Homo sapiens: one gene and its partner. The protein of the gene in region 2 interacts with the protein of the main gene of each other region in a pairwise test. Each region holds a gene or a part of one and is shown on either strand. Other genes may lie near its edges.

What was found.
Region 1: the proteins of SDC2 (region 2) and NF1 interact in binary tests that used the Homo sapiens proteins (3 or more experiments, as listed by UniProt).

The regions. Positions count from the first base shown.
Region 1 is NC_000017.11:31,097,911-31,101,660, forward strand, and holds part of NF1 (neurofibromin), read left to right. Parts: intron 1-3,750. UniProt on the Homo sapiens protein: Stimulates the GTPase activity of Ras. NF1 shows greater affinity for Ras GAP, but lower specific activity. May be a regulator of Ras activity.
Region 2 is NC_000008.11:96,496,723-96,500,472, reverse strand, and holds part of SDC2 (syndecan-2 precursor), read right to left. Parts: intron 1-3,750. UniProt on the Homo sapiens protein: Cell surface proteoglycan which regulates dendritic arbor morphogenesis.

The sequences.
Region 1 (3,750 bases), on a different chromosome or scaffold from region 2:
TGGTCTTGAACTCCTGACCTCAGGTGATCTGCCCCCCACCCCCTGCTCGGCCTCCCGAAGTGCTGGGATTACAGGCATGAGCCACTGTGCCTGGCCTATTCCTCACATTTTTCTCTTAGAAAGTTAAAGTCTCTGACCTTGAGATACAAAAATGTAAGGGTTTTCAGTGTTTAACATAAGGTACTTATATATATTATATATAGTATATATATAAAATAAATTAATATATTAATTTATTATATAAGTGATAAATGTTTAATTCAAATTAGAGTTCACCTTACGGTTGAAAATGTCTTTTAGTCAGAAAACTGAGGCATGGGAAGGTTAAGTGACATAGATCTAATAAGAGCTTCAGTATGAAAAGTAGTGAATGCTTGACCATCAGGGAGATACTTTTCCTAAGTATCCCATAAAATTTGTTCTAATCCATTAAATATATTTAGAAGACTTTATTTTATTTTTTTTATTTTTGAGACGGAGTTTCATGATTCTTGCCTAGGCTGGAGTGCAATGATGCGACCTTGGCTTACTGCAACCTCTGCCTCCTGGGTTCAAGTGATTCTCCTGCCTCAGCCTCCCAAGTGGCTGGGATTACAGGCGCCTGCCACCACTCCTGGATAACATTTGTTATTTTTAGTAGAGTGCTGAGATTACAGGCGTGAGCCATCGCTTACATTTTTATTGAGGGGAGAAAAAGCCCTGCATGTACTGAGAGATAGTTGTATAAGAATCTTAAGAGTTGGCCGGGCGCGGCGGCTCACGCCTGTGATCCCAGCACTTTGGGAGGCCGAGGCGGGCCGATCATGAGGTCAGGAGATCGAGACCATCCTGGCTAACACAGTGAAACCCCATCTCTACTAAAAATACAAAAATTAGCTGGGTGTGGTGGTGGGTGCCTGTAGTCCCAGCTACTTGGGAGGCTGAGGCAGGAGAATGGCCTGAACCTGGGAGGTGGAGCTTGCGGTGAGCCGAGATTGCGCCACTGCACTCCAGCCTGGGTGACAGAGCGAGACTCCATCTCAGAAAAAAAAAAAAAAAAAAAGAATCTTAATAGTTTCAACTGTTTATAAAACTTTTGAATTTTGGATTATATTATCTGTACTTTGCTTTACTGGGCCCAGGGGGAGTTAAGCTTTCCTTCTTATTACAGCTAAGAGTTTGCCTGTTGGACCACTTAACGCCCCCAGGGAGCATGTGCATGTCTAAAGATGGCAACTCTGTTTATGATTGCTGTTTTGGTTGGATTTCTAATATTCGGTGTGATTAAAGCAGAAATGCATTTCTAGCCACTGCTGATTACAGACATATTGCACTCTGATGGGTATCGCTTAGCAACTTAGTGCAGTAGACTCAGTTAAAAGAAGTGGATGTGTGCCATATTGACATTTTGAGCTCACATTCTTGTGGGTAATATAAAATTCCTTAACCTGATAATATTGCAGCTAAACCTAGTATTTAGGGTCTAAGTTGAATGAGTATTACCAATTTTAGAAGTAATCACCTCCTTGGTTAGGGAAATGACAGTTGCACAGGTGGACAGCCAGAAAGCTGAATGTTATCAGTTAAATCTTACATCTCTCCTTAACCTGCCTTCGTGGTGCCAAATAGCAAGTTTCTAATTGAAACTGACAAATTGTAGGTGTGTAGCTTTTTTTTTTTTTTTTTTGAGACAGAGTTTCGCTCTTGTCTCCTAGGCTGGAGTGCAATGGGGAGATCTCAGCATACTGCAACCTCTGCCTCCTGGGTTCAAGCCATTCTCCTGCCTCAGCCTCCCAAGTAGCTGGGATTACAGGCGCCCACCACCACGCCTGCCTAATTTTTGTATTTTTAGTAGAGACGGGGGTTTCACCGTGTTGGCCAGGCTGGTCTCCAACTCCTGGCTTCAGGTGATCCACCTGCCTTGGCCTCCCAAAGTGCTGGGATTACAGGCGTGAGCCACCACGCCCGGCCATGTGTAGCTTTTAATTGTGGTTCATTAACCCAGTTTCTAAGCAAATTAGAACCTTCTGTGTATCTCCCCTAGTTCTGTATGCCCCACTGGTTCCTGTAGAGCTTTATTTCTGAAGGGAAGTATGGGAAAACTATGGATATTTGAACTAAAAAAAAAAAAAAAAGAATTAAAAAGAACTCCATCCCAAAATGATTTGTTGTAAATATGTTCATTTAAAGCAATTATATTTTCCATATCTGATCAAGCAAAAGTAGTACATAAAAGCCAAAAAACCCAATTTAAAGAATATGTTATGGAATAAACTCTGATTTTAGAGGTTGTAGTAGCATATTTGTTGTTCTCATACATTGAGTGTTCATCTGAATGTACGTTGAATATGCGGTGAGTGATTCACAGTATAAAATGATTGGCAAGTATCTTCGAAATTACAAACCACATACTGATTAGACAAATAGATTTGCAAAACTGAAGCTTTTTGGATTTAAAAAATATCTCCTAGCCTCATTCTTCAAGCCTGGTGTGTAATTTTTATAAGGCCTTATAGTAGTTGAAAATGAGTACTCTTTTATGGTGACGAATTCTTTATGGTGAGTGAGAAATAATGCTTATTCTTCCAATTTTAGTATATGTGGTGCTGAATCGAGCACAATAATGCTTATTCTTTGCTTCGGAATTTTTTAATTTATTATTATTGTTATTTTAAATTTTTATTTATTTATTTATTTTGAGATGGAGTCTCACTCTGTCGCCCAGGCTGGAGTGCAGTGGCGCGATCTCAGCTCACTGCAACGTCTGCCTCCTGGGTTCAAGCGATTCTCCTGCCTCAGCCTCCCAAGTAGCTGGGACTACAGGCGCATGCCACCACGCCCAGCTAATTTTGTATTTTTAGTAGAGACAGGGTTTCACCGTGCTAGCCAGGATGGGTCTGAATTTCTTGATGTCGTGATCCACCTGCCTTGACTTCCCAAAGTGCTGGGATTACAGGCATGAGCCACCGTGCCCGGCCCGGAATTCATCCTTTAGAAAGATTTCTTCCAGCTGTTCCTCAGTTCTCTGCACTCCCTTACACTTTCCACCTTATCTGTCTGGGAACTAATTTAGTCTTTATGTTGGCTGCTTTCTTTTCACTTTTCAGGCTAAGATTTCCTTTCTCTTGGAAATCAGACGTTTACTTGGTCCTGCAGCTCTCTCTCTGTGGACCAGTCTTTTTTGTTGTTGTTGTTGCCAGATACTCACCGCCTCTACTGTTTATCCACCCATTTCCTTTATAACTCTGAAAAGTAGCTCCTGCCTCTGCTTGATTGCTGTTTTCTTGAAAGTGATTACTTCTGGCAAAACATAGTGGTCATTGCTTAGTTGTAATGCCACTGTGATGTTCCACTCCCCCCGGAAACCAATCTCTTCCAGTTCCCAAGACACAATACTTTTCTACTGAATTGGAGTTCCTTAGCGGGGGTCTTAGTTTTGTTCTGCTATTCAGTGCCTTTGTCCCTATCCTAGCCATTAGCTTTCCTATAGATCCTTGATTTCCTCATCTGTTGAAAAAGAAATGGCTAGAAAATCTTTTAGATTCTTTCAAGTTTAAATATTCGATGATTTTAATATTCTAACAGCATGTCTCTGTGACCCAGCAGTCTATTGGGAGCTGACCCCACTTGATTTACCAAACTCTTTCCCATTATGCCTCTGCATGCACCTATGTTCCAGGCAGGTCACCTCAGTCTCTTCTGTGTGTATCATGCTTCTTCCCACTTCTTGGCCTTTATTTCTGCCAGTCTCTGCCTGAATGCTTTAATTCC
Region 2 (3,750 bases):
CCAGGCTGGTCTCGAATTCCTGACCTCAGGTGATTGGCCCACCTCGGCCTCCCAAAGTGCTGGGATTACAGGCATGAGATATCGCGCCAGGCCACATTTCCACACTTAAAAAATAAAAATAATCCCTTTTCTGCCCCCAGATCCCCAAAATATACTCACTACCCCTGCCACCTCATTCTAAATGACCAACGGCATACCAACGCATGATACAGACTAAATTCTAACTCTCTCCTTCCCATGTGCTGGAATCTCAGCACAGCCTCAGGGAAGAGGAGGAGGTGTGACTGTGCACAGCTGATGTGTCAAGACGTTACATCAATGTCTTCTTTATTCTTGACACCAACCCTGCAATGCTGATGACACTGAGTGCAGAGGCATCAAAACTGGACAACTAGCCCAGGTCCACTGGGGGCTGGTGTATTCAGTTGACCCTGAACCATAATGCCTTCAGTGGCCAGCGTGAAACTTCTTCAGGAGTGCCAACCAACCCCAAAATGTCCAGGCCCACGGGTATCTGCACTTCAGCATGCAGTGTCAACAGATGTTTACCCAGCTCAGCACTGCACAGGAGTAGGAGATTTGGAAACATGGTTTCTTCCTATAGCACTAACCTTGATGGGAGAGAAAATTCACCTATTTAGAATGTCAGAGAGGTAAGAACATCTGACATGGCTCCCTCATTTCATTCATTTCATTGCCAAAAAAAAAAAGGCCAAGAGAGGAAAGGAAGAAAAAAAAATGTCCTATCTTCCGTGCCTCAAGCACCATTCATATGCTCCCTTCATTTCATCTTCACAACAGTCATGTTATAAAGGCATTCTTAGGTCCAATTTACACACACACACTTTTTTAAGTGACTCAGAGCTTTAATATACTGTCCAAGTTCTGACACATTAAGTGGCAAGGTACCAGCATCTGAACCCAGACTTGTCCACCTCCCAAGCCCAAGCCCTTTGTATTCTAAGCCCAGCTACTGCTGAAAACTCTAGTAGTAACATAGAATAGCACATAATTAAGGGGTAATGCTGTGATCTAGACCAGCGATTCCCAAATTAGTCTGATTCATTAGAATCATCTCAGTCGCTTTATAAAAATACAGTTTCCCCCACACTCCCACCCCCATTCAGGTTTCTGATTGTGTAAGTCTGAGAGGAGGCCTGAAATCTGTATTTTCACATACTTTCAATGATTCTGATCATCAGTATGCCTTGCTATTTACAGAAGGATTAAAAACAACAGGGCTGGATCAGCCATGAAAAGGTATTTGGAGCTTGCATTTAATCAATAGCATTTAAAAGGAGAAACACTGAAAAAGTAGCAATGTCCAGGGAGTGTTCATGATAGTGATATCAATGGGCCAGGGCTGGGAGATGTGGTGGAAAGTGATCAAGGGGGTAACCAGAAAGGAAGGCTATTATGGGGCCGCTTATAAATCCAGCAGAGGCATACAGACTATATGCCATGATAACAAGGACACGGAGGTGTCTAGACCATGGGCAACATGATCAAAGTGGTGGAGGACAAACCAAACTGCATGCAAGTGTCTGGGCCAGGAATGGCAACTACAAGGCTACTGACATAGAAGCACAAGCTGGCATGCCCCCAAGGAAGAAAAAAAGAGGGAAAGCTCTTCATTTGAAATTTTCTGTCCCATCAAGATTAGTGCTGCAGGAAGAGACCAATGGCCAGGCATAGTGGCTCACGTCTATAATCCCAGCACTTTGGGTGGCCGAGGCGGTGGATCAGCTGAGGTCAGGAGTTGGAGACCAGCCTGGCCAACACGTTGAAACCCCATCCCTACTAAAAATACAAAATTTAGCCAGGTGCAGTGGCATGTGCCTGTAGTCCCAGCTACTCGGGAGGCTGAGGCAGGAGAATCGCTTGAACCTGGGAGGTGGTGGTTGCAGTGAGGTGGCTGCAGTGAGGTGGTGGTTGCAGAGTGCCATTGTACTCCAGCCTGGGTGACAGAGTGAGACTCCATCTCAAGAGGAAAAAAAAAAAAGATTAGCGCTGCAGGAAGGGACCACATTTCCAAACCCCGACTTCTTTGCAGTGCTGAGCTCAGGTCAGGAGCTGGGTAAACACCTGTTGGTGCTGCATCTTTAAGTGCAGGTTCCCATGGGCCAGGGCATTCTGGGGCCGGTTGGCACTCCTGAGGAAGTTCCACGCTGGCCACTGAAGGCATGAAAAAATGAACGGAAAGATCACTAGAATGCAAGCTCCAAGAAGGCAGGGGGATATCTGCCTGGTTTGCTCACTGCTTTACCTCAAGCACCTAGTAGGTATGAAATAAATATCTGCAGAATGAATGCACAGCTGGACTTAGAGGCAGACTGGACGTGGAAACCAACAAAGATGAATGAGTCCAGGGCTTCTTCAAGATTTAAATCCAAATGATTAGAATGAAAATGATAGTACTGTCACAGTTGACTAAAAAAGTTAAATAAGAGTAGATTGGTTTTAGCAAAGATTCTTCTTCATTACTTCTGGCTTTTCTCTAAGACTTTATTTTGGCCTCTAGTCCACGAAAAGAATTCAGTGGTTTGGAGATTCTGCAATGCACCCTTCTGCCTTGGGAAGAAGAAAAGGATGGGCAAAATCTTTTAGTTTGATTTTTGGCAATGGAAGAAGGACAATCTAGTGAGAATCTAAACCCAGATGGCATTCCTCACAGGACAACTGGATCCCCACCAGCAGGTATGCCAACAGCACAGTGGCTTGACTGGACTTGCTATAAACCTTAATGACAGGGCTGGTGGGGCTCTGTGTGACTGGGTCAGCTTCAGGGGCCTTGCCAACCTAAGGAGACTCCAAGCCACCTCTAGCTGGCCAGTCAGGTCTCTGGGGGCTTTTGGAGACTTGAAAACTAGTTCCACCCAGGGAACAAACCAGTTCACCTTTTGAAATCCTTTCCAAACTAATGATTATCCAAGGCGCCATTTAAGTGATCATATTACACAGGGTAGGCTACCCCTCGAAGGGTGGTTACCATCAAAACTAGACATATCAGGTCCTAAAAGCAGAAGCTGAAGGGCATGCTCAAATTGCTTCTCAGACATCCATTTTCTGCAAGCCTGATCTTTCAAGATCTTTCCTTCTTAAATGACATCCTCCTTCTGCTAATACCCAACTAAGAGAGAAAGAGCCCTTGTTTTTATAAAATTCCCTAGCAAAAGCAATTTGTTTCACTCATAAAACAGCCAAACTATATTTTCTAAAGAACTGCAAAGTTACATGATTTCGATTTTAGTTACCCTTCTAATGCAAACTTTCCAGAGCCTGCCTTTCATAATACACCGAGAGATAATGCATGGGCCCAAATGACTTGACAGTTTCTTTTAATTTACAGACATCTAAGAATGTTTATAAAATTCCTCTAGTTCAAAACACTTCCTTTTCTTAAACATATTTCCAGTTCAAATTATGTGTTTATAGCAGTCTGCAATATATTATTTCTAAAGATAAACAGTCATGTACAAAATGGACAGAAAACCAGCAGCATATCACTACTGCCACACTCAGTCAGATTTTCCCCTTGCCTGGTGCTCCGCAGCCAAAGTCCTAACCTGCCAGTGGAAAGTATGAATGGATCACTAGGAACAGGCTTTCCCAGCTGCCTCCAGGATCCATAAAGGAACAGCTACCAGTTCCTTTTCATAGGCAGTTTTGAGCCTTAGTTCCTGAGAACCTCTTTTTTACCCCCAGAGCTAAGTATAAAACTTAAGAATTCACTAACTGTAGGCAGTTTTC